Regions from separate parts of the Homo sapiens genome. Here region 2 is linked to region 1. The links come from fine-mapping of genetic effects on gene expression. A gene starts in region 1. The other region holds a variant in brackets. All regions are shown on one strand. Distances are between the middles of the regions.

Region 1 (16,162 bases):
CTCTAGGCAATGAAACACCATTGAAGGCTTTCAAACTGTAGTGCCTGTGGTCGATTTGGGAGGGAGCAGGAAACATAAACAAAGCACTGTTTCAGGAAGATCAGTGTGGGGGCAATCTGTAGGGGTGAGACACTGGAGGCAGTTGTCAATGTCAACAGGCTGCAAAATGTCAAAGGGTAAGTAGGCTCAGCTGGAAAGTATACAACGTCTTTAGAAGCCCCATGCTGGGTGGAGGGAGGAGTAAGAAATCAAGAGCAGGTTGAAATACGGAAGAATAACAGCTGCAAGTGCTGACCCCAGCCTGGACAACCAAGGTGCAATACTTGTGGGACTTAGTGAGCTTAGCACAGTTTAGTTTAGATCTAGTCTGGCTTAGTGATAAGGGATTCCATGCAGAGGTACAATTCAGAACAGGATTGGTGTCCTCTTCAGCAATTTTGGAATCTATCTCACTGTGGCAAGACTTCCAACAGTGAGATCAAGTCCCAGAGGAGACACTGAGGACGTAGGCAAGGCTACCAGAAACTACAGGATAGGCTGGGTGCGGTGGCTCACGCCTGTAATCCCAGCACTTTGGGAGGCTGAGGCAGGTGGATCACAAGGTCAGGAGTCCAAGACCAGCCTGGCTAATATGGTGAAACCCCATCTTTACTAAAAATACAAAAATTAGCCAGGTGTGGTGGTGCGCACCTGTAGTCCTAGCTACTCGAGAGGCTGAGGCAGAAGAATTGCTTGAACCCAGGAGGCAGACGTTGCAGTGAGCCGAGATCACGCCACTACACTCCAGCCTGGGCAACAGAGCGAGACTCTGTCTCAAAAAAAAAAAAAACCCAAAAACAAAAAAACTACAGGACAGCAATAAATAACAAAAGCAAAAGCCCAGACTTACAACACAGCCTACAAATATTTACTGGAAGTCTGTTGTATGCCTGACACTTGGCCAGGCTCTGGAGATACACTGAGATTCAGGACCAAAACAGACATGGTCCTGAATCATGAATTGTGGTGACAGCTATGAAAAAATAACAGGAGCTCTGCCAGTCTTAACTGAGGGTGGATGGGGGTAGTGGGACGAGAGCATAAAGGAGGGCCTTTCTGAGGTGACAATTTAATCTGAACCTGAAGTTAGCTGGGTAAAAGCTAGTGGGGAGCAGAGCAAGGACAGCCCAAGCCAAGAGAGTGGTGCAGGTGTATACAAAAACAAAAGCCTTAAGGCCGGAAAAGGCTTGGGCAATTTGAGGAACTGAAAGAAGGACCTTGCAGTTAAGATGCTCAGAGAGGAGGATGGGGTGTAAAAGAAGTGAGAGAAGGTTGGGGAGGCCAGAACACACAGAGCCTCATAGGATAAAAAGTAAAATCCCAAACCGGCCTGAGTGCAATGGGAAGTCATAGAAGGGTTTTGACCACAAGGAAATGCTACAATCCTAAAGGGGTTCTAAGTGCTCCAACTACCCATGCTCCTCTCAGGTCGCTGGATCCGGGCTGGCTTGGTAGCAAAGGGGCAGCAGCCAGTATCGTAACTAAGTAGCAGGATTCCAGGTTTGAAATAACAGAGTTTATTATATGGCCCTCCAAATGCTCCAGGGTTGCAAACTTGAGAGGATGATGGCACCACTGAAAAACACTAATAATAACTATAATTATAAATTATAGAATAATAATTAATAGAAACTAACGATAATAGAAACTAATACTAATGGGAGGCATTACTTGACTTTCAACATACTGAGTACGAAGAAGTAGCAAAGAATGCCAGCCGGGCGCGGTGGCTCATGCCTGTAATCTCAGCACTTTGGGAGGCTGAGGTGGGCAGATCACCTGAGGTCAGGAGTTCCAGATCAGCCTGGCCAACATGGTGAAATGCTGTCTCTACTAATAATACAAAAATTAGCCAGATTTGGTGGTGTGCGCCTGCAATCCCAGCTACTTGGGAGGCTAAGGCAGGAGAATCACTTAAACCCGGAAGGCAGAAGTTGCAGCGAGCCAAAATCACACCACTGCACTCTAGCCTGGGCGACAGAGCGAGACTCCATCTCAAAAACAAAACAAAAAGAATGCCAGCAGGTAAATATGGATTTTGTTTTGGAGTATGGAAGAGAGGTGAGGCATGGATATGCAGGCTAGCATATACAGAGGTGACAGTTAAGTCTCATAAATAACACTTATGAAGATTAGAAAAAGAGAAAAATAAAACAATAAAAGGAGCCCTTAGTAATTGACCTTAGTGTTTATCTCCGGGATAGAAGTCAGGAAAGGAACGACGCCCCAAAAGGTAAGAAGGAGGACAGTACGATGTTAGAAAAACTTAAGAAAAGGCAGAGAGTTAAGAAAGCTGACTGGGCACGGTGGCTCATCCGTGTCCTAGCACTTTGGGAGGCTGAGGTGGGAGTTTGAGACCAGCCTGGCCAACATGGTGAAATCCCTAAGGTCGGGAGTTCGAGACCATCCTGGCTAACACAGTGACCGGCCAGGCTGGTTTTGAACTCCTGACCTCGTGATCCACCCGCCTCAGCCTCCCAAAGTGCTGGGATTACAGGTGTTAGCCACCGCGCCCAGCCAGCAGTGTATAAATGTTTTAAATAAATGAACAAATGTTACCTTCTATTCTCTTTGTACTAAAAATACAAAAATTAGCTGGGCGTGGTGATGCACGCCTATAATCCCAGCTACTTGGGAGGCTGAGGCAGGAGAATCGCTTGAACCCAGTGAAGTTGGGAGGGGGGAGCGGGGCAGAGGTTGTGGTGAGCCGAGATCATGCCACTTCACTCCAGCCTGGGCGACAGAGCGAAACTCTGTCAGAAAGACAAGAAAGATGGATGGATGGATAGAAGGAAGGAAGGAAGGAAGGAAAAAGAAAAGAGAAAGCCGTGATACAAAGGGATGGGACAAGGGAGTTTTTTTTGGAGTGATGGAACCGTTCTGATCCTGACTGTGTACATTCATGTGTGAACATTCACAGAACTGTAAACACACATAAAAAGTCAATATTACTGTATGTTATTTTTAAAAAAATGTTTAAATGGATAGGAATTGTCAAAAAGGATTGACTGCTGCAGGGAGACAGAAAAGGATGAAACCTGAAGAGAGAGTTTTGGAAATTTTTTTTTTTTTTTTTTTGAGACGGAGCCTCGCTCTGTTGCCCAGGCTGGAGTGCAGTGGCGCGATCTCAGGTCACTGCAGCCTCCGCCTCCTTGGTTCAAGCAATTCTCCTGCGTCAGGCTCCCGAGTAACTGGGACTACAGGCATGCGCCGCCACACCCGGCTAATTTTTTTGTATTTTTAGTAGAGACGGGGTTTCACCATATTGGCCAGAATGGTCTTGATCTCCTGACCTCGTGATCCACCTGACTCGGCCTCCCAAAAGTGCTGGTATTACAGGCGTGAGCCACCACGCCCGGCCAATGTGGGAAATTTACCCACTAGGTAATTGGCAACCTTGGAACAATCTGGCTGCAAAAGTTTAAAGAATGACTGTGTAGTGAAGACGTGAAGAAAGGGAAGCAGCCAGCATAGACTGCTCTTTCAGAACTCTGGAAGTGAGAGGAACAGAAGCTCAAACATGATAGTAGAACGGAGAGATCCAGCAAACTGACAGAATTTTCCAAGACCCCATGAGTTGCTCCATTTAAGTATTTTTTCAAAACGCGCATTTTGCACATGAACTAGTCATTTTCTTATTGTCCTGTTAAACTAAAACTGCACAATTCAACGACTAAAATGAATCCGAAATCTACACTTTGATTCTGCTCCTTAGAATCAAATGTCAGTCAACTAACGTTTTCTGTGTTCCCACTATGTGCCAAGCACTGTGCTGGATAGAAAAATGAGTAACAGTCCCTGGAAGAGCACACAATTTATCACAATACACAATAGCCCGGGACTGGAGCAGCAATCTGCACAAAGGGCTCTGAAAGCCTTGAACTCTTGAGCTAAAATGTATTTTTACAATCTTTATAAAAATTAAACAGGGAAGAAATAAGATGTACTTTTGCAAAAATGTTATTAATTTCTAAAAGCCAAGAATGAGCTTAATGTAAACTTTTTTTTTTTCTTGGAGACTGAATTTCGCTCTTGTTGCCCAGATTGGAGTGCAATGGCACAATCTCGGCTCACTGCAACCTCCGCCTCCCGGGTTCAAGCGATTCTCCTGCCTCGGTTTCCTAAGTAGCTGGGATTACAGGCGCCCACCACCACGCCCGGCTAATTTTTTGTATTTTTAGTAGAGACGGGGTTTCACCATGTTGGCCACGCTGGTCTCCAACTCCTGACCTCAAGTGATCCACCTGCCTCGGTCTCCCAAAGTGCTGGGATTACAGGCGTGAGCCATCGCGCCCAGCCTAATTTAAATTCTTAAGTTAGGTATGGGCAACCTAATCATCAGTGGTATTCTCCTTTTCTATTCCTCTCTACTTTTCAGTGCCCTTTCTCCCTCTGATAATTCAAGGAGGAGGCAAAATGAAACACGCGTAGGCTCTCAAACCAGACAGACGTTGAGACTAAACCTATGCCCTGGAACTGCATAGCTGTGTGGCTCCTGGAGATCCCTTTTCTCATTCATAGTATAGTAACGATACCTACCCCACAGGCTTGGGCTAAGAATTAGGGGAAAAGATGTCAAAAGGCTGGCATAGAGTAAGCATACAATAAATGTTAGCTAATATTATTACTGCCATTTCAACAAGTGGTATTGCTCCGACTTGAAAACATTTTTAAGGCCGGGCGCGGTGGCTCACGCCTGTAATCCCAGCACTTTGGGAGGCCGAGGCGGGCGGATCATGAAGTCAGGAGATCGAGACCATCCTGGCTAACATGGTGAAACGCCGTCTCTACTAAAAATACAAAAAAATTAGCCGGGCGTGGTGGCGGGCGCCTGTAGTCCCAGCTACTCGGGAGGCTGAGGCAGGAGAATGGTGTGAACCCGGGAGGCGGAGCTTGCAGTGAGCCGAGATTGTGCCACTACACTCCAGCCTGGCACAATCTTTGAGACTCTGTCTCAAAAAAAAAAAAAAAAATTGAGACTCTGTCTCAAAAAAAAAAAAAAAAATTTAAGTGCTTCCATTTGAATGAGGGAAATCTTTTTCAAGGGCATGACATTTATATGTTACCACAGAAAAGCAGCTACGGAATTCCTATCAGAAACCACTCTGCTCAAATAATGGTGTTTGGGATAAGCCCTTAATAATAGTAAAGAACTAAGAAAATATAAAAGTATTATTATCATCATCACCACGTCCCACGTGGGACAAGCCAGTCTGATTTGTATTCTGGATATTGGTGAGTGTGCCTTCGTGCAAGTGGGCACTACACAGCCCTCCCACTACCTGCCTACAGCAATGCTGCGCGCTGTAGAGACAATGCGCTAAAAGTTCCGCTCTATAAGAGGCATTTACACAACACTACCCAAAACACATCTGTACTTTCGAAGCCAAGATCACTGATGATTCTCCAAATCAAGAGAAACCTTATACTACTGAAATCTCCCACAGCGAAGAGAGAAGTAACCTCTATTAGTAAACTTTCACAAAATGCTAATGTCTATCATTTCTACACACTTTATATATATACTTAACTGTTGGTGGGGGCACTAATGTTTCATTCACTGATTCTTGGCTTGTTTTATTCACTATGAAGAAATATCTTTGACCAATTTTGTATAATTTTGCTTAAATTATAATACAAATGACCAACTTGAAATTCACCATCCTCTCGTTCAATCTCTAGCACTGATGCTAAAAAGTAATAAAACAGCCAAAACACATGAGAAAGCACGAACTTAAAGTCCCAGGCTGGTAACCTGAATTCCAAAGAATTCAGAATAAGCTGGTCCTTAAGGCGCTTGACTAGAGGTGACCGTTACTGGACGTCTTTAACCACTACAGCGTGTCTCGCTGGATCGGATGTCCAGCCTCTACAGCCGAATAAACCGGTAGTCTGGAACTGAAGGGCACCGGACCACGGGAAGGTGTAAAAACACTCTCCGTGCCCCTCGTTTCCTTGTCCAGAGTCTGAGCCGCCTCCCCAAGTGGCCGCACACGCAGGGCCCTGGCGAGGGGTGTGGAACGCATTCACCTTGTCACGCAGGTCCTGCACACAGGCCGGGACGCTGCGCAGGGACCCGAGGATCCGAGGCCTGACGCCTCCCTCTGCCACCGCCAGCCAGGGGCGGACGCGCCTCCGCGGGCCGGGAAGGTGTCCCCGCGCCGAGGCCCCCCGGAGACGGGAAGCGAACTCGACGGCCGGGCCAGCCCACCCGGAAGCCCTCCCCCAGCTCACACCTGCTGGCGCGTGACGCCCGGAGCCGCGCGCGCGCCCGCCAGTGCCTGCCCGGCCGTTCGGGGCGCCCCGGCCCGCGCGCCGGACGTCGCCCCGAGTCCCTCCCCGCCCCTCGACTCAAATCTCGGCGGCGCCCGCTCCCGCGGAGCGCGCGCTCAGCGCCGCCGGCCGCACCAGCCCCGCGCGCGCTCACGCCCCCTCCCCGGCCCGCTCCCCGCCCCACGCGCGCTCCCTCGCGAGGACACGCACACGCCGCGCCTCCGCTCACCGCCCCGGGCCGCGCCGCGCGCCCCCGGGGGCGCCCTCGCCGACCCCCGGCCGCCCCGCTCCGTCCCGGCGGGGCGCGGGGGAGGGGAAGGACGGCGCGGCCGCCGCACCTCACTCACCGCCGAGCCGTGCCGGCTCCGAGTGCGCGGCGTTTCGCTGTGAGGCGAGGCGCGCAGTCTCCGCTTCTCCGCAGACTATGGAGGCGACGTCGTAGGGGGGACTGAGGGGCGCAGGGGTCACTCCCTCCCGTTTCGCCTTGCAGCAGCACGGGGACCCCAAAAACTAAAAACAAAATAAACAAACTTTCCCCTCCGCATCCCTCCCCCAAAACCACAACACAAACACTCGGGGGCCCGCCCAGAGCCCCACTCCATTGGCCGCAGGGAGGATGCTTCCGGCTCTCACTGGCTGGCTTTTGTGCCCGTCAAGCTGTCGTTCCGCCCCTCCAATTCCTCGTTGCTGCCTTCGCCCCTCATTGGTTAAGTGCTTCCCGTTTAACGAGCTAGGATTGGCTGAGCTGCCTGAGCCAATCATGTGGGGACACACCCCCTCAGCATCCCAGAGGCCGCTTCCTCGGTCGAGGACCCAGAGAGACTCAGGGGAAATTAGAGCATGATGGCGGCCGAGGTCGCTTGGCGCAACCATCGTCTTTTTTCTTTATTTTTAGCTCATTAGTGCCTTGCCTCGGCGCTGTTTCCCTAAGCTCCTCTCTCCAACCAGTACTGCCCTATAACGGAATCCATACGTGCCGGCTCCTTGATTTATCCCCTCCGAAGTGCTGAGTGTGGGCTGGTTGTGCGTCATTGGACTGTCAGGATGTCACTCCCCAGTCAAATCTTCAAGCTATTGGTGGAACAGCAAGAAAGCCCGTCCATCAACAAGGGCTAATACCATTGGTTTGACTCCACTGTGTTATTTCCTGGCACCTTATTGGGCAAATAGGTGCGTCAGATCCGGATTCGCTCTGCTACGGTTAATTGTTTACTGGGGATTTGGGGTCAACTCTGGTTGTTTGGCCAGTAGTTGACGATAATAGTGACTCCCTTGCCTATTTTGTGCCAAGTATTGGGCTGCTTTCTTCACAAACATTATCTGGTTAAACCTGGGAGTAATGCAGTATCCAGTTTTTATAGATGGGAAATTAAGGCTGGCGAGAGCTTAGAAAACTTGCCCAAGGTCATCCAGATACAGAGTCGTTGGTGGGCCTGGCATCTGGTCCTGGGTCAAACTGCAGAGACTTCACTCTTTTTATTATGCTTTAGTGCCTCCACCTTAGACGATGTACTTGTCAGCCAACCTAGCATCTTAAAAACGTTTCATTTGGAACTCAAAGTCTTCAGTCAGTTTCTAGAAGTGACTTTGTTGGGGACTTACTATGGAAAGGTTGTCATTGCCTCCACCACATCTTCCTCCCCAGGACCCATTCCTCTCCCCTTTAAGGTAGACATTTCTGCCTCCTTTTATGCGAAGCCTAGGCACCACTCGCAACCCCTGACCAACCATCTACAACTCATTCTTTGGAGAGAGTCCTCAAGAGCTGGAAAACTAGGAGAAATCAAGTCTAAAGAGAGAGACAGAATAAATCGTCTTAGAAATGAATAATTTATTGCATGCAAAGAGAACAGCCCTTCAGCTCCTGGAAATCTTCCAGGATAGTTGATGCTGAGCAAGACGTGTGCTCCTGGCTGGTGGCCACTGGGTTCTTTCCCTATAGCAGCATTCATCGAAGTGAATCCAACATTTCAGCCAGAGGAGGGCAGGACGCTTAGGACCCATTGCCAGTGAGCTTTTGCGACCGAAATGATCTCCAGGAGCACAACGCTGGACTCTAGCCCACATTCCATCTTGGGTAATTAACATTTTACCGTCCCAAATCCCCATCCCCTGTAGCTTCAGTGGGATCACCGCCCTTGTTTCACTTCCTGATCCAAGCTGTTGTGTAACCTCCTTGGCACTGCTTTAATAATAAAACAACCATTGTAACATAGTAACAATGCTCAACACTTAGAGCCTTTCAGCAAATGAAGCCAAGGTATTTCATAAACGTCAATTAAGAGTAAGTGGCATGTATTCCTAGGGCAACTGCAAGAAGGACAGAAGAAAGATCGTGCGTCAAATTCTAATATAGGTTGTAAGAACGTGAGTCCTTAAAATTGTATGCACATACCCCATATTAGCCTTCCAGTATGGGGATTCTGAACTCAAAAACACAATGAATGAGAAACATTCAGAATCTAAAACCTTCCTAATCTTCAAAGTTGGTTGCTTGGACCCCTATTTTAGCACTTAAGTTGGTGCTTGACTTTCTGGGTAATTGTTTGATACATTTCAGTTGTAAGTACCTTGAAGCAGATGGTTTCTTTTTCATCTTTGTGTCCTTCACATTGTTCTGATCGTAAAAGGCCCCCAAATAAATAATTACTCAGTAAATGTTTAGTGAGCATGTCAGGCACTTTTACTAAGTTACAAAGGCTATGCAGATGAGTGATACACTCTCTCTTCCTTCAAGGACCTCAGTCGAGTAGGGGTGTCCAGCAGATAAGCAGATAACCATGATGCAGTGCTGTGAGAAGGTGCCCTGGAAGCAAATGGTAGGGACATGGGACTCCATCTCGGGAGGGACAGAAATGGCTTCCTGGAAGAAGTGACACCTTCAAGGAGAACTAAAGAATGAGTTACGGTTAGCTAGGCAAGAGACTGGTGATGTGTGGTGACCTACGACATTTGCTCTCTGGTGGCAGGGAGCAGAATGGGAATATCCAGAGATGGCCAAAGCCTGTTCTTCTTAGAATCTTTGTCCATAAAGGCCTCAGCAATTTGTCCACTCCACCTCATTGTGCCTTCCCTCCCAGAGACAAAACAAATGCCTGAAACCTTCTCCTATTTGCCCACTTGAGAATAGGAAAATAATTTCCAAATAAGATGGCCGTTTTTCTGATCATAAAAGTAACATTGAGGCCAGGCACATTGGCTTATGCTTGTAATCCCAGCAATTTGAGAGGCCAAGGCGGAAGGATTGCTTGAGGCCAGGAGCTTGAGACTAGCTAGAGCAACACAGGCAGAGCCCATTTCTACAAAAAGAAAGAAAATAAATAGTTGCGCATGGTGGCCTGCGCCTACAGTCCCAGCTACTTGGGATGCTGAGGTGGGAGGATTGCTTGAGCCTGGGAGTTCAAGGCTGCAGTGAGCCACACCACTGCACTCCAGCCTGGGCAATAGAGCAAGACCCTGTCTCAAAAAAAAAAAAAGTAACATTGAGTAAATATAATATTAACTCAATATTTAATATTCTGTATTTCAGACAATATAGAAAGTTATAAAGTAAAAGCCGCCCATAGTCTGTTACATCCAGACACTGTTAAGGAGACTATCTTCCCAGACTCTTTTATGAACAGACCCACAAATGAGTTTCTTCTTCCAACAAACAGTGGGATGTGGTTCAGGGTCTTTTCTGGGCTCTCAGAGCTCTCATCACCCAGAACTGCGGCTTTGGATGGAACCTGCCCTCGCTTTCTATACTTATAGGAAGGAAGCCAATCTGTCAATCAAATATTTATTGTGGAGAAGATGGGTTTCAATTCCTGTCAGAGCCAATGGCAGGACTTTTGGGGCTTACTCAGCCTGGTGTGAATGTTAAGCCAATGATTGGGGTGAGGGCGTCTGCCCTGTAGGGCTTACAGGCATGCCTTGGTGCCTGCGGAATCAACTCATACCCTGAAAAGGCAGCCCAGGTCAGAGAATGCTATGCCAGGGTGCTCTCTTGTGCTTGCTCTCATTTCCTCTCTGCATGCTACTTGGGGAAAATATTTTTCTGTTTGTTTGTTCCAACCCACCCAGCTTTCAGAGTAAAAAGACTCGTTAAGCCCTGCACACTTGTATGCAGGCCAAGTGCACTATGTTCTTGGAGCGCTGTGCTATTCTTAGCGCTCTATATGTGGTGTTCTATACAGTTGGCTTTTTGCTGGAGGGGAAGGCAGATTTCATGAGTGATAGCTGCCTTGGCTGGCTACCAAAAGTGCTCTGAGCCATCTCAAGCAACAGGCCTTCCTTTTTTCCCTTGAGAGGTTGTGTTGTGATCCCTGCCCTCGGCTTGGACAAATTCCAAGGCAATGGGAATTTTTGTGAACAATTCTGCAATAACCCACAAGCTGGGGGAAGGGGGGATAGCAAGCTGGATCTGCTCCAGCTCTAATTTCTGTGACACAGAAGAACTCCTTCCGCCCTTTGCACTGGCCCCTCATAGCTATGAAGAATTTGGAAGTGTTCATTAAGCATTCTCCAATTCTTGAAGCTTATAACAATGGGAAGATCCCTGTAAAGGAATCTGATCCAAAAGACAAGGGGACAGCTGACAGCTGATACTGCTTGCTTGGGCAGTGGGTGTAGCCATTGCCAAAGACCAAGAGCAATGAGGCAGGGAAACTCTCTAAAGAGGGCTGATTACAGAGGGCATGCTTATAAGCATTTATTGCATGTCTGGGAGCATTTACTGTGCAACACATCCCTTGTGTCTGTCTCACCTTCTAAATCACCTATCATTTTTTATGACCACACTTCCTGAGAAGCTACTTAGTTAAGCAGCAAACACTGGACCCCCTCATGTGTGCTGGCCAATGCTAGACACACAGGAGGCAGCTCACAAGAGAACCAGGATTATGGTTAATAATAACTACCCTTTGGTGGACACTTGCTGTGTGTCATACACTGTACTGAGGGCTTTACGTGGATTATGGCTGTTAATCTTCACAACAACCATTGTTATCCACATTTTCTAGATAGGAAAATGGAGGCACTGAAGGGCTAACTAACCCATCGTTGAACCTAGGCGGTCTGACTCCAACGAGTAAGCTCTTGTCCACGCTGCTATATTGCCTCTGGGATGTCTGACTTGGGAACCCCACAGTGCAGCTGGGGAGATGACCAGCCCTCAATGAACAGTTGTCCTCGTAGTCTTTAGTATCTCAGCCCCATCCTCTTTACCCCCTATAAACTCAAGGAAAGAAATACACCTCTTTCCGGCTAAATTACTGCCTCTGGTGGTCCTTCCTCCACGTCCCAACTGAGATCTGGCTTTTCTCCCACTCCCTTCAAATAGCTTCCTTCCCTTTCTTCTCTATTTTCTTATCCTAGCTTTTTAAATAATGGCCTGCGGCCATCTCCACCACCAGGAATGCTCTCTCGTTTTCTCTCTCTGAACCTGGCTTCTAGCCCTAACTCTACTGAAATTCATTTCTCTAAGCTCATCTATAACCTTTTTGTGGCCAAGATCCAAGAGACTTTCTCAGTCCTTGTTTCCATGGCTTCACCAATACGTTTTACTCTGAGAATCTTTTCTTTGCTTCCCCAAATAGCCAGCTTTCCTCCTACCTCTACAACTGTTCATGCTCTTTTCCCTACCATCTCTTTCTCTAAGCTCCTTCAAAGGAATCTGTCTGCACTTCTCTCCTTATGTTGTCTCTGGGGGCGTGCGACGCTCGCAGGACTCAGCAAGCTCAGCTGGGTCATTATCCTACTTTCACCTCTAAGATGAGAATTCTATCTCTCCATCTCCACCCTTCATTCTGCAGCTTGTTTGCTGCGTGACTTTTTGCAAGTCACACAAACTATCTAAGCTTCAGTTTCCTCGTTTCTAAAATGAATATATTGAATCGGATTTGTTATTCTCCACCTAAGATAATGATAAAACCTAACATTTTAACCCACATACCAGGCCAGGCGTAGTGGTTCATGCCTGTAATCCTCCCAGCACTTTGGGAGGCAGAGGCAGGTGGATCATGGAAGTCAGAGGTTCAAGACCAGGCTGGCCAAAATGGCAAAACCTCATCTCTACTAAAAATACAAAAATTAGCTGGGTATGGTGGCGCGCACCTGTAATCCCAGCTACTCAGGAGGCTGAGGCAGGAGAACTGCTTCAACCTGGGAGGTGGAGGTTGCAGTGAGCTGAGATCGCGCCACTGCACTCAAGCCTGGGCAACAAAGGGAGACTCCATCTCAAATTAAAAAAACTGCATACTATGCCAGGCAGGACTAAGTGGAAAATGAAAGCATGGGGTTCTGTGTTCACAGGTTTCATGCCCATGAAGCCAGCTCTAGTACCAGCCTCTGCTCCAAGCATTGTATATGTATGAGCTTATTCAGTCCTCATAGTAACTTTCTGAGGTAGATACAGATGAAGAAAGTAAGGCAGAGATAGGTTAAGCAGTTGCCCAAGGTCAGTTTTTAATTGGTAGAATTGAGGAAAATAACACTTGCCTGTTGGGGCTGTTGTGAGACTCACGGGTGCAGGTGCATAGGGAAGGCTGGTTCCTGTCCAGGGACCCCTCAGCCCGGCCATGCCCATTCTCCGGCAGAGAGTTTGTCCATGTGGTTTCTGCTGCCTATGATGCCCCCTCTTCCTCTGCCTGTCCCCAAGTCTACACTTTCTTCAAAGCTCAGTTCAAGCCCCTCCTCCTCCTCTGAGGGGTTTCTGCAGCCGAGGCAGGCCCACATCTCCCTTCCCCTGGCAGATTTCCTGAGCACCCATAGTGAAGGCAGCCCCCTCCCTGCCTTAGGAGCACTCGCTGGCCTTTGCGTACTCCAGGCTCAGTAATAACCAATCCTACAAGGCCAGAGGAAAAACTTTTTTCTCCATATCCTTGGAGCAGCTTGCTGTAGACTGTCTCACCCACCAGACAGGAAGGCTTTGCGGGCAAAACCTATATTTGAGTTATCTGAGTCTTCACTGTGTCCTCGATAATTGTGATTCTCATAATTCTCCTAAAAGAGTTCTGTCTAGGCTCTGGACCTTTCCCTGGAATGCCTTGCCTCATTGTCCCCTCCTCCATTCACTCCTCAGGTATCGGCTCAGAGATTACCTCCTCCTCCAGGAAGCCTACCCTGTTCTTCTCCCCCAGGTTAAGTGCCTCCTCTGGGCTTCTTTACATGCTGTGCTTTCCCATCAGAACACTTGCCTCCCAGTATCCATCTTCCTAACCATGTTCTGAACATTTGAAGGTAAAGGCCAGGTCTATCTTATCACAGTGCCTGGAACACAGTAAGTTCTCAATAAGTTCGTTTGAACAAATGAATGAACGAATGAATGAATGAAAAAATTAAATGTTGAGCAGGTGCAGTGGCTCACATCTGTAAGCCCAGCTACTTGGGAGGCTGAGGTGGGAGGATCACTTGAGCCCAGGAGTTAGAGACCAGCCTAGACAACATAGCAAGACCCCATCCCTAAAGTTTTTTTTTTAATTAGCTGGGCAGGGTGGTGCATGCCTGTAGTCCCAGCTACTTGGGAGGCTGAGGCGGGAGGATCACCTGAACCTAGGAGTTTGAGGTTGCGGTGAGTTATGATTATGTCATTGCACTCCAACCTGGCAACAGAGACCCCCATCTCTTAAAAAAAAAGTTGGTGAAAACTCTGGGCTCTGCAGGCATCTCAGCACAGGGCTTGGCACCTGATGGGTGCTTATGTACATTTATGAAATGGGTGAGAACAAATCCAGAATTTCTGTTCAGAAGAAGCCTTAGTGGCAGCGGTCTGGTTGGAGGAGTGAGACTAGTGAATTCCTCTTGACAGAACAATGACAAGGTAAACATGAGAGTTGAGAGTCCGTGTTGGGAGCGGAGGCATAAAGGAGAGGTGTCCTAGGCCAGAGGTCAGCAAGCCCAGGCTTGAGGACCAAATCCAGCCCACTGCCTGTTTTGGCACAGCCTGTGAGCTAAGACTGGTTTTTGCTTTTGTTTTTTTGTTTGTTTGTTTTTGAGATGGAGTCTAGCTCTGTTGCCCAGGCTGAAGTGCAGTGGCATGATCTCAGCTCACTGCAACCTCCGCCTCCCAGGTTTAAGCAATTCCTACGCCTCAGCCTCCCGAGTAGCTGGGATTACAGGCATGTGCCACCACACCAGGCTAATTTTTGTATTTTTAATAGAGACAGGGTTTCACCACGTTGGCCAGGCTGGTTTCGAACTCCTGACCTCAGGTGATCCACCCACCTCGGCCTCCCAAAGTGCTGAGGTCACAGGCATGAGCCACCGCACCTGGCCGGTTTTTGCATATTAAAAGAATATTACTACTTTGTGATACATGAAAATTATGGATTCAGATTTCAGTATTCATAAGGTTTCACTGGAACATGGCCACACCTGCTTGTTTCTGTACTGTCTAGGGGTGCCTCAGTGCTATGACAGTAGCTGCAACAGACACACTGAATGTTCACTTTTTGGCCCGCCACAGAAGGAGCTTGCAGATCCCTGCTTTGGCCGTCTAGCTGACCTAGGGGAGGAAGGACGTATGCTGCCAGCCAGCCACAAGGTGTCAGCCTCTCACCATGATGCTGCCAGCCGCGTGGGCTTCTCCAAGTTCTCCAAGGCTTCTCTCCAGGGCCACCTGCGCAGGACCAGGACTGTGGCCCCTAGACCCCGTCCCACCAGGCTATAGTCACTAGTGTGAAAGCCAAAGACATCAAGGCGGGGTGTGGAATCTACATGAGGAGTACAGGCCTGGCTTGGGAAGCCCCATGGCCTGGAGAAGGGTTGGCAGACTTCTCCGGACATGCTCTGTTTCTTTGATTTAGGTTTTATTTGTATTTTGTATACAAAAGATTCTCCAAACAAACTAAAATTGTTTATTTCACCACAAACTATCAATCCAGAAAGGTTGTGGGACTTTTGCACAACCAGATAAGACCGCAGCCCTCTAAGGATGAACCTGCATGAGGGGAACACAGGTCCCTGCCAAGCAGAGTGGCTCCGAAATGGCATCTCTGGCAGGTTTTCTCTCCCTTTCTGTCGAAACCTGGGCCTTGGCCAGGTGTGGTAGCTAATGCCTGTAATCCCAACACTTTGGGAGGCCAAGGCGGAAGGATCGCTTGAGGCCAGGAGTTCAAGTCTAGCTTGGGTAACACAGTGAGATCCTATCTCTACAAAAAAATATTGAAAATTAGGGCAGGAGCGTTGGTGCAAGCCACTACTACTACTAGCTACTTGGGAAGCTGAGGATGGAAGATCTCAAGGAACTCATTGAGCCCAGGAGTTTGAGGCTGCAGGAAGCCATGATTACGCCACTGCACTCCAGCCTGGGTGACGGAGCAAGATCATCTTAAAAAAGCAAAAAAGAAAGAAAGAAAGAAAAAAGAAACCTGAACTCTGTAGCTTCCTTCAGGTGAACAAGCAGTTAGCCCTGTGTGCCAACGATTCAATATGAAAGTGGTAAATTTCACAGGGAATTAAAGGGGAGGATCTAGGAGAGAAGATCCCAAAAGGAAAATAAGCCACTGGAGGTCACAACCCTGGAGGCTCCTCCGATGCCCAGCTGTTTGCGTCAGCCCCTGTGCTAGGTGCTTCACGTGGTTACTCTGGAGAGTCGTCTCGAGATCATCCCCATTTGACACATGAGGAAACAGGAAAGTTCGGGGATGTGAAATTGCTTGCTGGGGTCATTAGCTGTTCGGTGGCAGAGATAGGATTTCAGCCCTTGCCTGCCTGTTCTGAAGCCTGTCCTCTCTATGCCATGCGCCCCCGCCAAGGTCATGCAGGCATACCACTTCAATACCATGCCTTCCTCGCTCACCATGGATCCCCAGGCCGGGCACCCAGCAAATATCCACCGGATGAATAAATGGGTGCAGGCCTGCAAGCA
Region 2 (16,162 bases), 88 kb before region 1:
GTGCATTTCTGGTGAGAATATAAAATGGTGTAGTCACTTGAAAAACAGTTTGGCAGTTCCTCAAAAAGTTAAACCATATGACCCAGCAGTTCCACTCCTAGGTATATAACTAAGAGAAATGAAAATATATTCCACACAAAAACTTGTACACAAATGTTCAAAGCAGCATTAAAATGTTCATTTCATAATATTATTAATGTTCATAGCAGTCAAAAGGTGGGAATCATCCAAATATTCATCAACTGTTGAGTATATAAATAAAATGCAGGCCAGGCACAGTGGCTCGCGCCTGTAATCCCGGCACTTTGGGAGGCCAAGGCAGGAGGATCACCTGATGTCAGGAGTTCGAGACCAGCCTGGCCAACATGGTGAAACCCCATCTCTACTAAAAATGCAAAAATTAGCTGGGCATGGCAGCATGCGCCTGTAATCCCAGCTACTCAGGAGGGTGAGGCAGGAGAATCACTGGAACCCAGGAGGCAGATGCTGCAGTTAGCCAGGATCGCACCACTGCACTCCATCCAGCCTGGGCCATAGAGCAAGACTCCATCTCAAAAAAAAAAAAAAAAAAAATGCGTACACCCATGCAATAGGGTATTATTCAGCCATTCAAAGGACTGAGGCACTGATAATGTGCTTAACATGGATAGCCTTGAAAACATGATGCTAACTGAAAGAAGTCTCACATCACACAGAAGGAAAACATACTGTATGATTCTATTTATATGGAATGTTCAGAATAGGTGATTCTGTAGAGATGGAAAGATTAGTGGTTGCCTGTGCCTGGGAGGAAAGGGAATAGAGAGTGACTGCTAATGGATACAGTTTCTTTTTGGAGTAATGACAATGTTCTTAAATTAGATGGCAGTGATGGTGGTACAACTCTGTGAATACACTGAAAACCATTGAGCTGTATACTATAAATGGGTAAGTTTTATAGGATGTAAAGTATACCTTAATAAAGCTGCTGAAAAGGAAAAGGAAAGAACATCCAAGTTAATTCTTTTCTTTCCTTAATTTACCTTTATTTTTACTTTTTTTTAGTACTTTGAATTGCTGTTTGGGGTTTTGTTTGTTTTGGTACTTTGAGAGAGTGAATTCTTATCCATGCTCAGGTTGGACACAGTCTGAAATACTTCCTACAGTTCTATACTTGAGCCTTTTCTCATCTCCCAGCCCCATCTATTCCTATATGCTGAGAACTCCTAATACGTATCTTGATGTCCTCTCTCTCTACTGAGCTCTAAAATGCCTACTAATTTAGTTTTACCTGGGCTGCCTGCAGGTGCCTCAGTATTTCAAAATCCACACCCAGTTAAAAGTAACAGTAACAGGCCAGGCGTGGTGGCTCATGCCTGTAATCCCAGCACTTTGGGAGGCTAAGGCAGGCGGATCACCTGAGGTCAGGAATTCGAGACCAGTCTGGCCAACATAGCGAAACCCCGTCTCTACTAAAAATACAAAAACTAGCTGGGCATGGTGGTGTGTGCCTGTAATCCCAGCTACTCAAGAGGCTGAGGCAGGAGAATCTCCTGAGCCTGGGAGGCAGAGGTTGCAGTGAGCTGAGATCATACCACTACACAATAGTCTGAGCAACAGAGCGAGACTCCGTCTCAAAAAAATAACGATAACAGTAACAACAGCTACATCCAATACCTTGCTCTATCTCCTATTTCACATGGCATCATTTAACCCACTCTTTGCAGATTTGTGCTCTCCTCCCATCCTTCCTGTATGCTTCTCCTGTCAGTCCCCTCCTCTGCAGACCACTGTTACTGCCTTATTTCAAAAGCCTTCCTCAGTCTTCCTGAGGGGACTCCTAACTCTCCTAACTGGTTTCCGTGTCTCCATTTTACAGCCTGTTGGTAATCATTTCTCCACACTCCTGCCAGGTCATTCTTTTTTTTTTTTTTTTTGAGATACAGTCTAGCTTTGTTGTCCAGGCTGGAGTGTGGTGGTGTGATCTCGGCTCACTGCAACCTCTGCCTCCCAATTCAAGCGATTTTCCTGCCTCAGCCTCCCAAGTAGCTAGGATTACAGGCGCCTGCCACCATGCCCGGCTAATTTTTGTATTTTTAGTAGAGATGCGGTTTCACCATGTTGGCCAGGCTGGTCTGGAACTCCTGACCTCAAGTAATCCACCCGCCTCGGCCTCCCAAAGTGCTGGGATTATAGGTGTGGGCCACCAGGCCCGGCAGGTCCATCTTTCTAAAATATGCATCAGATCATCAGGTTTCTCCCCTGCTTAACATCCTTCAATAGTTCCCTATTGCCTGCAGGGGTTCTGCTTCTAACTCCATCTCCAGGGTCTCACAGACATCTCTCAATGCTCTAACCATCTCTTCTCCGGAGAAATGTGTGGCTCTGAATACGCACAAAGCACCCTCTCCCTTCTTAGGGATTCTTCTGTACCTATAGAAGTCTATAGTTCTATAAACTGACTTTTCCAGTAAGTTTATCTGACATAAGGAAACAGCTGATTACTCTGCCGTGTAACTTGTCCAGGATGGAGTATTGAACTACTATGGCCTCTGGAGTCAGACAGGCCTGGAGTTCAACCCAAATGATGTTGCTTACCAGCTACGTAAACAAATGGGGAAAGCACTTGCGCTGCATGTTTGCTTTTCCAATCTGCTCTCAGAATACCAAAATCCATGAAATCTTGTTATCACTTTTGCTAAAGCAGATCCAGCCTAAGGTAGAGATATCCTAAGCTCTGGAAAGCAAAAGACTTTATTAAACAATGGGTAAATCTTTTTTCTCTGCATCCCCTACCAAAACACAAACAAAACAAATTACCAAGTTCCTAAAATACTTCTGTGTAACACTTTTCTTGACTAAATGAGCACTTAATATTAAGAACAGATCTTGCAGTTCTTTGTCAATGAAACCAATTAAAACAGATCATTCAAATACTACTGTGTATTTTATGTCTAAGTTACCCTATTTAACTATCTTTAATGTTAAGCAAATCAACAGATGACTTTATTCTCTGTAGACAAAGACTACGTTTACTTGCTGCCTTTGATAATGATAATGTTATATTAATAGCTAAAATGTTAGCTTCCTGATTCAGTAAATATTTATTTGCAGTAATTAGTAGAAACACGTGGGTACTTAAATATATAGCTATAAATTTGAAACCCTAGAGCTTACTTTTATTGTTTTATTATAAATATTTAAATATACAGGCCAGGCATGGTGGCTCATGCCTGTAATCTCAACACTTTCGGAGGCTAAGGTGGGAGGATCTCTTGAGCCCAGGAGTTCAACACCAGCCTAGGCAACATAGTGAGACCATGTCTCTACAAAAAGAGTTAAAAAAAAAAAATTTAGCTCGGTGTGGTGGCATGCATCTATGGTCCCAGCTACACGGGAGGCTGAGGCAGGAGGATCCCTTGGAGCCCAAGAGGTTCAGGCTGCAATGAGCTGTGTTCAGGCTACTATACTCCAGCCTACGCGACAGAGCAACACTCTGCCTCAAAAAAAAAAGTATACACACACACACACACACACACACACACACAAGATAAACATACACAAAGGTACAGAGAATATGATCACAGACACCCAACGGCTCAGCTCTATAACAAATTTTACTATATCTGTTTTAGATTTCACTTAAAAAATGAACATTTCAAGTCTAGAGCTACAGAATCTCTACAACTAGTAAGCTAACACCAACTCATTTAGAATATCGACCTAAGTTACATTACATTTAAAGTGAGAAATGGCTACAGAGTTTAAGCATTCCAATCTATCTTTGTTAAGAACCATAAAGAAAGATTACATCAGGTCTGGAGACCGTGCCAGAAATGCCAGTCCTCGCCTCCCAATTCATTTGACCTTCTATGGGATCTACTTCCTCACCTACGGTTCTTGCTCTCCTAACTCCTGAGAACTCAGGACCCAATGGAAATCAGTCCACAGGCTGAAGTAGGCCTATTAAATCCTCTTTTCTTTTAGAGAAGCTGAATGTAAAGATACAGATATTCTAGTCTACCTACCCTCTCTACATCAACACCAGTTATCCTAACACAGCAAATCATAAAGTAAAATGTACATCTCATTTCCCTGCTTTAAAAGTCTGCTGCTTTGGTTGGCTGCAGTGGCTCACATCTGTAATCTCAGCACTTTGGGAGGCCGAGGCAGGAGGATCACTTGAGTCAGAAGTTTGAGACCAGCCTGGCCAACATAGTGAGACCCAGTCTCTACAGAAAAAGTAAGAAAAACTAGCCAGGCATGGTGGCACACCTGTAGTCTCAGCTATTCCGGAGGCTGAGGTGGGAAGATCACTTGAGCCCATTAAATTCAAGGTTTCAGCAAGCCATCATCACATCACTGCTCTACAGCTTGGGCAAAAGAGCAAGAACATGTTTCTATTAAACAAAAAAAAATTTGCTACTTCAAGGTGTCAATAAGGTTGCTAAAATAAAAATAAAATAAAATAAATTTGTTTAATCTGTGGTCTATTCTTGAAACTCTTCAGCCTAAGATAATCTGGGCTCTGCCATGCCCCCGTCTCCCTGGCACCCAACACTCTAGTCGCTGTATGGTGGATGAAAGATGATCTCATATTTAAGGTCAGTCTTCCCACTGAAAGGTGGGGTCTGTTTCTCCTCCCCTTGAGTCTGGGATGGTCCTGTGACTTGCTTTAATTCAACAGACTGGGGAAGAAGCAAAGCTGGGTGACTTCTAAGGCTGGGCTTAAGGTGTCTGCAGCTCCTGCACAGTTGGAATGCTCCCTCCTGAATCCCTGCCACCATGCTGTGAGAAACCCAAGGCATGCAGAGGTCATATGGAGGAGAACCTTGGGTCAACAGCCTCAAGTTGGTCTCCTAGCTGACAGCCAATACCAACTGCCAGCCATGTGAGTGGGCCCTTTCAGGCATTTCTGGCCAATTGGGCCTCCAGATGACTGTAACTCCAGCCAATACCACTTTGGAAGAGAAGAACTGCCCTAGTGAGCCCAGGAAAACACAGAATTATGAGAAATAAAATGCTGTCTTGGTAATGGAGTCTTAAAAATATATGAAAACTTTATTTTTTAGAACAGGTTTAGATTTACAGAAAAATTAGGAAGATAGTCCATTTATCCGGATGCAGTTTCTGCTGTTAGTAACATGTTACCTTAGTATATCTGTCACAATTCATGAACCAATATTGATACATTATTATTTATTTATTAAACTTTAAGTTCTGGGATACACGTGCAGAACATGCAGGTTTGTTACATAGGTATACATGTGCCATGGTGGTTTGCTGCACCCATCAACCCATCACCTACATTAGGTATTTCTCCTAATGCTATCCCTCCCGTAGCCCCCCAACCCGATACATTAACTAAAGTCCATAGTTTATTAAATTTGCTTAGTTTTTACCTAATGTTCCAGGATCCCATCCAGAATACCACATTACATTGTCATTGTGTCTCCTTAGCTGTCTCTTGGCTGTGACAGTTCCTCAGATTTTTCTCAGTTTTCCTTGAGTTTTCAGGAGTGCTGATCAGGTATTCTGCAGAACATTCCGCTAGTGGAATTTGTCTGATGTTTTTCTCATGATTAGACTGGGATAATGGGTTTTAGGGAAGACAACTAGAAATTGAAGTGCCATTTCCTCACATCGTACCAAGGGTACAAAGTATAAAAATGACTTATCACTGTTGATGTTGACTTGATTGCCTGACTTTAGGGTTCTCCACTGTGTGAATCCACACTTTAAGAGTGGAAAGTTATGCTCCACATCCTTGAGGATAGAGTATTTACTAAACTTTTTGCAATTATTCCACTCAGGAGGTTACAATGGTGGTTTTAAACCACTAAGTTTTGATGTGATGTAACAGACATCAAGATATCTGAAACACAATCAAATTTTTCACCATCTCCCATCGCATATTACCTGTTTTTTTTTTTTTTTTTTTTTTTTTTTGAGACGGAGCTTTGCTCTTGTTGCCCAGGCTGGAGTACAATGTCACGGTCTCGGCTCACCACAACCTCCGCCTCCTGGGTTCAAGTGCTTCTCCTGCCTCAGCCTCCCGAGAAGCTGGGATTACAGGCACATGCCACCATGCCTGGCTAATTTTTTGTATTTTCAGTAGAGACAGGGTTTCTCCATGTCGGTCAGGCTGGTCTCGAACTCCCAACCTCAGGTGATCCGCTCGCCTCGGCCTCCCAAAGTGCTGGGATTACAGGCATGAGCCACCGTGCCCGGCACATTACCCCTTATATGCTATACACAGTTCCCTCTGCATATAATAGCCTTCTCCCCCTCACCCATTCAACAACAAACCAATAAAAACCATGAAACCCGTCTTTCTACAATGCCCAGTTCAAGTGTTCCCTCTCCATTGTGGACTTCCTTCCAGAAAGAATTCATTGCTTTGCCCTAGGCACATATTTAATATCGGTATCATAGCCTGTATGGTATGGTTACCTCCCTCAACTAGGTTAAAAGTGCCCGAAATGCAGAGACCATGTCTTACATAAATCACTTTGCATGCCTGTACCTACGACATCAGCAACTAGTAGGTGCCCAATAAATGTTTGTTGCATTAAAAAAACTGAATGACTATAAAAGTATGTCATTTTTGATAATATCTCAATAAAAAGAAGAGATGATACAAATAAACAGCTTAGTTCAGCATGTGTCAGTAAATCCACAATAGAGCTGAAACCTCCCAGTAATGTACAGTTCCACTATGTGACAGCGAAACCAGACACTAAGAAAAATGAGCATTACATTTAACCAGTCAAAGCCACATGTGACAGATAAAATAGTAGTATCTGTTTTCAGATCAGTGTGATAATATAAGCACATAAATGCCAAATAAAATAGGTCACATGAATTTCTCTCTACGGGAATCAGGCCAATGAAGCATATACATATCTGTGCCTCCGGATTTTACAGAATATATATATATATATATATATTTTTTTTTTTTTTTTTTTTTTTTTTTGAGACAGAGTCTTGCTCTGTCCCCCAGGCTGGAGTGCAGTGGCGCGATCTTGGCTCACTGCAAGCTCCGCCTTCCAGGTTCACGCCATTCTCCTGCCTCAGCCTCCCAAGTAGCTGGGACTACAGGCGCCTGCCACCATGCTCGGCTAATTTTTTTGTATTTTTAGTAGAGATGGCGTTTCACTGTGTTAGCCAGGATGGTCTCGATCTCCTGACCTCGTGATCCACCCGCCTTGGCCTCCCTAAGTGCTGGGATTACAAGCTTGAGCCACTGCGCCCAGCCTTTTTTTTTTTTTTTTTGAGATGGAGTCTCACTCTGTTGCCCAGGCTGGAGTACAGGGGCATGATCTTGGCTCACTGCAACCTCTGCCTCCCATGTTCAAGCAATTCTCCTGCCTCAGCCTCCCAAGTAGCTGGGACTACAGGCCCCTCGCCCTCGCCCTCGCCCTCGCCTCGCCTTTATTGAGATGGAGTTTCACACTGTCACCCAGGCTGGAGTGCCGTGGTGTGATCTTGGCTCACTGCAACCTCTGCCTCCTGGCTCCGTCCCGTCCCGTCCCGTCTCGTCTCGTCTTTATTGAGATGGAGTTTCACACTGTCACCCAGGCTGGAGTGCAGTGGTGTGATCTTGGCTCACTGCAACCTCTGCCTCCTGGGTTCAACTGATTCTCCTGCCTCAGCCTCCCGAGTAGCTGGGATTACAGGCACAGCTGGGATTACAGGTGCACACTAACAGGCCCAGCTAATTTTTGTATTTTTAGTAGAGATGGGGTTTTGCTATGTTGGCCAGGCTAGTCTCAAACTCCTGACCTCAAGTCATCTGCCTGCCTCGGCCTCCCAAACTGCTGGGATTACAGGCGTGAGCCACTGCACCCAGTCACAGAAGGTAATTTTCATATTTAACCTCTAAAAATATGGAACAATAAGACAGATCCATGGGTAACTCTGTTAATTTGATTCAATTTTATCTCTCACATACACAGCAGAAAAATTAAATAAGCCCTGAAGTGGTCCTTGGGAAAAATGTAAGAAATATTCACTGTTCCTCCAAAGGATATGTTCAGAGGCATCTGAAGTTTTACATTAACAAAAACTCTGTCAACTTGTCTTCCTTCAGCATTTACAATAGAAGCTTTCACAACAATAGCAGAACTCTCTTTGAGAAATTTGTTAGGTCATACAAAATTGCAATCTGGTGACCATTCAGGGAAAAAAAGCTCGTTCTAAACTGATGTGAAATTTAACATTCTTTCTTCCTGCCTCCACTTTAAGTGGTTGGAGCTCCAATAATTAAAACAAAGAATAAATAATAGTTTAAGGAGTCAATTCTGTGTATCAACACCCAACACAGTTCCTAGCACACAGTAGGTGCTCAATAAATATGTGCTGAATTAATCAGGAGAGAGGAGGGGAGGAAAGGAGGCAAAAATAAGGAATTATGCTTGTGCATAATTCAGGAATGATCTATAATCTGTTTACAGCAGTCTTTTAGAAACCATCACCTGCTTTATATCTTTCTGGCAGAGAAAAAAAAAAAAATCCCTAAACTCAAGAGGTCAAAGTCTACAATTCCCAACTCCCGAAGAATATATAATCCTAATCCATCTCTGAACTTCAATAAACATCTCTCTCCAAGAAAATGTTACGGAAGATGCTGCACAGTTTCAGAGAGCACTCTTCAAGAGGAACAGCAAAATTCACTTCCTCCAATAAGACTTCTATACCGCGCTGGGCACAGTGGCTCAGCCTGTAATCCCAGCACTTTGGGAGGCTGAGGCGGGCGGATCACGAGGTCAGGAGATCGAGACCTTCCTGGCTAACACGCTGAAACCCCGTCTCTACTAAAAAATACAAAAAATTATCTGGGCAAAAAATTATCCGGGCGTGGCGGCAGGCGCCTGTCAAGTCCCAGCTACTCGGGAGGCTGAGGCAGGAGAATGGCGTGAACCCGGGAGGCGGAGCTTGCAGTGACCCGAGATCGCACCACTGCACTCCAGCCTGGGCAACAGAGCGAGACTCTGTCTCAAAAAAAAAGACTTCTATACCAACCCTGCCCATCCATAAGGGCTCCTGATCTATACTTGCACAACTTACCTGGATATTTTGTAAACCATATTGACCGTTTATTCATTTGTTAACTATTTTTTTTTTTTTTTTTTTTTTTTAGACGGAGTCTCCCTGTCGCCCAGGCTGGAGTGCAGCGGCGCAATCTTGGCTCACTGCAAGCTCCACCTCCCGGGTTCACGCCATTTTCCTGCCTCAGCCTCCCGCGGGGGACTACAGGCATCCGCCACCTCGCCCGGCTAATTTTTTTTTTTTGCATTTTTAGTAGAGACGGAGTTTCACCGTGTTAGCCAGGATAGTCTGGATCTCCTGACCTCGTGATCCGCCCGCCTCGGCCTCCCAAAGTGCTGGGATTACAGGCGTGAGCCACCGCGCCCGGCCAATTCATTTGTTAACTATTCTTAGCACCTTC[G/T]CTACAACTGCAATTCCAAGCCTTTCCTCTTAATAGGAAATCAAAACTTGTCATTTCAAGTCTTCAACTGTGTACTCTACACTCTACCAACTACAATGACTTCTCTTTCGAAGGCAATACAAAGAAAAGCTGAACCCACTTCCTTTCTTTCTTTCCTCCTCCAAAACTCCCTCCGCCATTAAACAAGAGTCAGAAGAGCAGGATTTGGGCCTGAGCTCAGGCATTACTGCAGTACGAGGCCCGTTAAGCCTGGGAATCTGAGAAACCTTTTTCTAACTGCACTCTGCCTTCCTCAACCCATTTCTTCCCTCTTTTCTCAAACATGCATAGTCCTCTTCCATTTAAAAAAAATCTTTCACTTGAACTTAATCCTCCTCCTCATTGTTCTCTCTTCCATTTATTTCCAAATGTCCTAAAATTGGGTGGTGGACTATAGTCATAACTCATTTTTAAAAATCATTTAATTTCTCTTTAACCCATAAAATTTGGTTTCTGCACCTCCTACTCCAATTAAATGGCACCCTTGAACACCAGTAAGTTCTTTTTAGAAACTATCATAGAAAATTTAAAACATGTACAAAGTAAATACAAATAAACTCCTATGTACCCATCACAACACTTCAATAGTTGCCAACATTCTGCCATTCCTGCTTCATCTATACTTCCATGTATTCTCCACTCCATTTGATTGTCAGTTTCACCACATAAAACATACCTACACTGTAACCATTTTTATTGTAATTATAAACAATTGCACCCCTATCAGACACAGAACATCTCCATCACCCCCTAGAAAGTTTTCTCATATCCTTTCTCTTTAATTAGTTCTTAAACAAATCCAGGTGTCTTTTCTCACTTGTCAACCTCCTTGATTCTTGGCAGCATCTGAAGTTACTGAGTGAGCCTTTCTCTTGAAATTCCCCTTTTGATTTCTATGATGCAAAAGGATCTCAATCCATCCTCGAGTCACATCAGTTTTGGCGCCAAAATACACCTCAAGTCTGTCTTTCCTCCACTTCCAGTAACACCCATGAATGTAGTCCTACCCGAACAGCTGCACGTGCCTTCTCACCAGGCTCCCTGCTTCCACTCTTACCTCTTTCCAATCCACTGTCCAGACAGCAGACAGAGCCACCTCTTAAAATGCAAATCCTACACATCACATCACTCCTCGAGTGAACAGCCTTCAATGGCTGCCCTAGGCATGGAGAATAGGTCCACGTTGCACACTGTGGCCTCTGAGGTCTTGCAAGGTCTCTGTCTCTCTCTCTAACCTCCTGTCACACTTGGCCCACAGGTTTCTGAGAGTTCTTAGAAGAGGCCAAGGGCTTTTGCAGCTGTTTCCTGTGTCTAGAACACTGTTGCTTCAGCTCTCCACACAGCTGGCTCCCTTGCCCATTAGCTTCAGCTGAAATGTCCCCGTCTCAGAGAGACCTTCCTTGACTAGCTACGCTCTTCCTCCCAGCTGCCCTGCATGACATGGCTTTATTTTTTTCATAGTACTTACCATCATTTATAATTATTATCTTTATTTATATTTATTCATGTCTCCCACTAAAATGAAACCGCCTTGAGAGTAGGAACCATGTATTTTTGGTTCACTGTTGTATCCCATGATAACACGTGCTTAATAATTATTTATTGAAGGCCAGGCGCAGTGGCTTACACCTATAATTCCAGCACTTTGGGAGACTGCGGCAGGAGAATCACTTGAGCCCAGAAGTTCGAGACCAGCCTGGGCAACACAGCAAGACTCTGTCTCTACCAAAAAAAAAAAGAGAGCCAGGTGTGGTGGCACACACCTGTGGTCCCAGCTACTTGGGAGGCTGAGGTGGGAGAATTGCTTGAGGCTGGGTGGTTGAGGCTGCAGTGAGCTGTGAGCTGTGAGCTGTGAGCCGTGAGCCGTGAGCCGTGAGCCGTGAGCCGTGATCATACCACCACACTCCAGACTTGGTGACAGAGAAAGATCCAGTCTCAAAAAAAATATATTGAACAAAAATAAATTCAGCTGAAAATCACTTTTTGGTAAAAAATTCTCTACTTTTCCTCAAAACCTACTACCTTTCCTAATGGCCTTCTGTTAACAGACATCCACAAACTATGTAACCACAGCAAAATGACAAATTCCAGCCATACATTAAATCATTCCAAATATAAGATTTTATTGATTGATTGATTTACACCCTCGGAGGAGGAGAATGGACTGACCCCTGCGAGATGAGATCAGCCTCCAAATATAAGATTTTAAACAAAAGCAAACATCAGGAGGAAAAACATAAGAGCCTGAGTTAAACTAAGGCTGATGAAGTTGAAGTTATAATCTAATTTATAACAGAAGCATCCACTTAGTGCAAGTATAAAAAGAATGTTCTCTTATTCTTGAGTCTAATTCATTCTGAACTGATAAACTATTCAGTAATTGAAAAATCAAGAAAGCTAGTCATTTATTTTTCCAAAAAGAAGTTGAAAACTGAGTTTATGGCACAGTAATATATTCTATACCAGTCTAATTACATGTTCACCAAGCAATCTCCCAATTATACCTTCTCTTTCCAGGGAGAAAATGTACTAGCCAGAAATCCAATCTTCCTTTTTTTTGAGGCAGGGTCTGGCTTTGCTGCCCAGGCTGGAGTGCAGTGGCATGATCACAGCTCACTGCAGCGTCAACAGCCCTGGGTACAAATGATCCTCCTACCTCAGCCTCCTGAGTAGCTGGGACTGCAGGCATGCACCACCATGCCCAACTAATTTTTGTATTTTTTGGAGACAGGGTTTTGTCATGTTGCCTAGGCTGGTCTCGAAGTCTTGAGCTCAAGCAATCTGCCCACCTCGGACTCCCAAAGTGCTGGGATTGCAGGCATGAGCCCCAATCTTCCTTAACATTATATTTCACTATCAATTAGTAAATTAGGATCTTGAGGAAGGGTGTATATGTACCTCAGAAATTCTGGGGTGTGTGTATCTTGGGTGTCCTGGGTATGTGTGCCTCTGTGTGTGTGTGTGTGAGGGAGATTCCTAGATCGTGTGTGTACCTCACAGGCTCTGACTAACCCTACATCAGATTCAGGGTCTAAATGAGTCTGATGAAAACCTATATGCTTCTGCTTTAGCTACGGAAAGAAGAAAGAAATCTGGTGATATGGGAAAGGAAAACTAAGAGGACAGGATGACATCTGTCCCTCCACCCAAGCCACGGACTAGATCATAGCCCCGCAGAGGGGGCATTCAGAAAGAAATGGAAAGAGTTGTTTTCAGAGCTCCCAGGAAGAGCTACAGACAATTCTGAATGGACAGAGAGGGAAGTAAAAGTAATACTAAGGGTCTCATGTAACTATGTTAAGAAGCAGCCAAGGAAAATCAGCACATGGAGCCAGATATAGACAAAAATATAGATAAATATTTATATATAGGATTTATATATAGGATTAATATATATTTATTTTTATTTTATTTATTATATATATTTACATACAAGATTTGATGATGATAACACTCCTTAGGCTCTAGATTGAAAAAACAAAGCAAACAAATTACCATTTAAAAATTTATAATATGTAGCCATAAAAAAGAATTAAATCATCCAGGCATGGTGGCTCATGCCTGTAATCCCAGTACTTTGGAAGACCTAGGTGGGTGGAGTGCTTGAGATCAGAAGTGTGAGACCAGCCTGGACAACAAAGTGAGACCCCGTCTCTACAAAAAATACAAAAATTAGCCAGGTTTGGTGGTGTGCACCTGTAGTCCCAGCTACTCAGGAGGCTGAGGTGGGAGGATGGTTTGAGCCTGGGTGGCAGAGGCTGCAATGAGTCAAGATCGTATGACTGCACTCCAGCCTGGGCAATAGAGCCAGGCCCAGTCTAAAAAAAAAAAAAAAAAAAAAAAAAAAAATTAAATAACGTCCTTTGTAGCAACAGGGATACAGCTGAAGGCCATTATCCTAAATGAATTAACACAGAAACAGAAAACCAAATGCTGCATGTTCTCACTTATAAGTGGGAGCTAAACACTGGGTACATGTGGACATAAAGATGGAAACGGTGGACACTGGGGACTCCAAAAGGGAGAGGGAGGGAAGGGAACAAGGGTTCAAAGACAAGCTCTTGGGTACTATGCTCACTACCTGAGTGATGGAATCACTTGTACCCCAAGCCTCAGCATCACACAACATACTCATGCAACAAACCTGCACGTGTACCTCTAAATCTAAAATAAAATAAAATAAAATTTGTAATAGAAAAACACCTAAAAATTATCAGTGACTGCCTCTGTGCAGCAGGAACAGGGGACCAGCTTTGACTCCTGACTTTATATACTTCTGATTTTTTATAAGCCTATAGTAACTTTCGTAACAAACTTTAAAAGACATAGTATTAGTGTTCTAAAAATAAATTATAAAGTTCTCTGTAGTTCAGTAAAATTGTTTTAAATTAGCATATAGGATTAAAAAGTATACTGAAAAGAAAAAATATTTCTCAATCTTATGTTAGGTTCTAATTTAACTCAATCGAATTTTTACAGTCATGTAAAATGAAATACCCATTCTACTCATCCACAGCCTCTACTGTTCAATTTCTACCCAAACTGTACCTTTCAGTAATTTACTGACCTTGGAACTGCTTTCTTCCGATACTTCTCCCTCATTGGTTTGCATGGGAACAGATTTTGTGCAAAACTCTGCAGAAACACAAAAATACTGCCTAAAAGAAGAGAGAAGAAAAAAGTATGTAAGGAATTCAGGGCAAAAAAATTTTTTTTTCAAAGGTTTAGACTGAAATTCTCTCAATAAGGCCACAGATACTGTGAAGTAACTTTGAGTAACTTTGTGTGTGTGTGTGTGTCTATGCACATGCATCTTAAAGGTAAGAAAGGGAGGGAGAGAAGCAGGGAGGGAATGTTTCCCATCTTGGGGGAGAAGGGTAGATAGGAAAGGTTTCCAGCATTGGGATATTAATAGCTCTAGATTTCTTTCCCTATTTTATTTGGCTTTTGGCAGAGGTGGTGGTGAAATTCTTACAGCAGACACTGACCTGCAAGAAAGTATGGCAGTGAGCAAAGCGGCGCACCTGTTGTTCCGCCCCTGCAGGTCACAGTGCCTGGGTATTAGGCTAAGGCTATTGGAATTGGCAGGGTTTCCCGGGCTTATAATTTATGAATAACGTTCCTGCTTTCTTTATAACTGAAATTAAAGTACACTATAATGGCTGGCCCCACTTTTCATTTTTAGGAAATGTGCTTAATAAACTAAATGTCAGTTCATTTATTTTTATATGAGACTATTTATAGGGCAAGACAGTAAAAAGTAATTAAGTTTTCCTCAAAGAATAAAATGAGTCAAGAAAAAGTTTGTTAAAATTTTATGAATTAAAATGTACCAAAAGGAAACTACTAAAAATTTATGCAACATTTTCAAGAATTCATTACATATGTAATTATTGAGGAATATTTTTTTTTTTTTTGAGACACAGTCTTGCTGTGTCGCCCAGGCTGCAGTGCAGTGGTGAGAGTTTGGCTCACTGCAACCTCCACCTCCTGGGTTCAAGCGATGCTCCTGCCTCAGTCTCCCAAGTAGCTGGGACTACAGGCGCCTGCCACCACACCCGGCCGATTTTTGTATTTTTAGTAGAGACAGGGTTTCACTATGTTGGATAGACTGGTCTTGAACTCCTGACCTCGTGATCCGACCGCCTCAGACTCCCAAAGTGCTGGGATTACAGGCGTGAGCCACCGCTCCTGGCCCTATTGAGGAATAATTATTCAAATGACACAAATCTCCATTATAATACAGGTATGAATATTTACAAACCTATCAGCTACTCTAAAGCTCATAGCTACAAAACATAAAAACTAAAAAAGGCCAGGTGCAGTGGCTCATGCCTATAATCCCAGCAATTTGGGAGGCTGAGGCAGGTGGATGGCTTGAGCTAACGCGTTCAAGACCAGCCTGGGGGCGAAACCCCACCTCTACCCAAAATACAAAAATTAGCCAGGCGTGGTGACACATGTATGTGGGCCCAGCTACTTGAGAGGCTGAGGTGGGAGGACTGGTTGAGTCCAGGAGGTCAAGGCTGCAGTGAGCTGTGATCACACCACTGCACTCCAGCCTTGGCAACAGAGTGAGACCCTGTCTCAAAAAAAAAAAAAAAAAAAGGTAAAAAGATGCTGGTAGTGTATGTTTTTTGTGTGTGCAAGAAAAATCTATTAATGCACAACGCTTGATGATCTGTTTTGGTGTAGGCTTCTCTATAACCAGCCAAGACTCAAGGCTAAGAAGGCACTTCCAGGAAGCTGTTGCCTCATCTACTGGGTGGGAAGGGGTTACCAAAATATCTACTTTGCTCACCCACCTAGCAAGGTCTTGTTGGGAACAAATGCATATTTATGTGATGTGAAGTGTAAAATCAGTACAGTAGAAGCTCTCAATTGATATCCATTCACTTGCTCCCAGCTTAATCAACATTGCCCATCCTCTCTGTAAAACACATGAGGGATGCTCACAGCAAGTGAAAATAGGCTTTCTCTAGTTGATTTTGTCCCTCACCTATTTATCACAGTTGTGCAAAAAAAAAAAAAAAAAGTTCTCTTTCTATAAAAATTAGGTTGATAGCATTGGAAAAACTCAATAACTTATCCAGAAAGATTTTATGTGTAATTTGCTTCACAGATGTCTTTAAGTTCTCCTACTTCACTGAAACAGAGACTGCATTTCTCTGTTTCATTATAGGCATAGCTGAA

Direction of the effects. Positions count from the first base shown, and alleles are read on the strand shown. Sizes are in standard deviations (SD) of each study's normalised expression.
With allele G in place of T in region 2, the expression in testis of the gene that starts at base 7,128 in region 1 is higher (small effect, 0.33 SD a copy in GTEx).

The links. PIP is the estimated chance that this variant, and not a neighbour inherited with it, causes the effect.
Region 2: its variant is fine-mapped to the expression of TNRC6B-DT in testis (GTEx, PIP 0.94).

The regions. Positions count from the first base shown.
Region 1 is chr22:40,035,496-40,051,657 of GRCh38, reverse strand. It overlaps TNRC6B-DT (TNRC6B divergent transcript), which reads left to right and starts at 7,128. Exons shown (of 1, transcript NR_163486.1): 1 at 7,128-8,528. FAM83F (family with sequence similarity 83 member F) reads right to left here. Exons shown (of 5, transcript NM_138435.4): 5 at 8,124-16,162. It also overlaps a transcript of TNRC6B not described here. RefSeq lists silencers at 4,570-4,788, 6,075-6,144, 6,155-6,374 and enhancers at 6,675-6,794, 7,105-7,404, 7,486-8,133.
Region 2 is chr22:40,123,737-40,139,898 of GRCh38, reverse strand. It overlaps a transcript of TNRC6B not described here. Among named protein-coding and RNA genes, the nearest start is that of TNRC6B, 46 kb to the left of the region's middle. The variant G/T (reference allele first, on the strand shown) is at 9,431.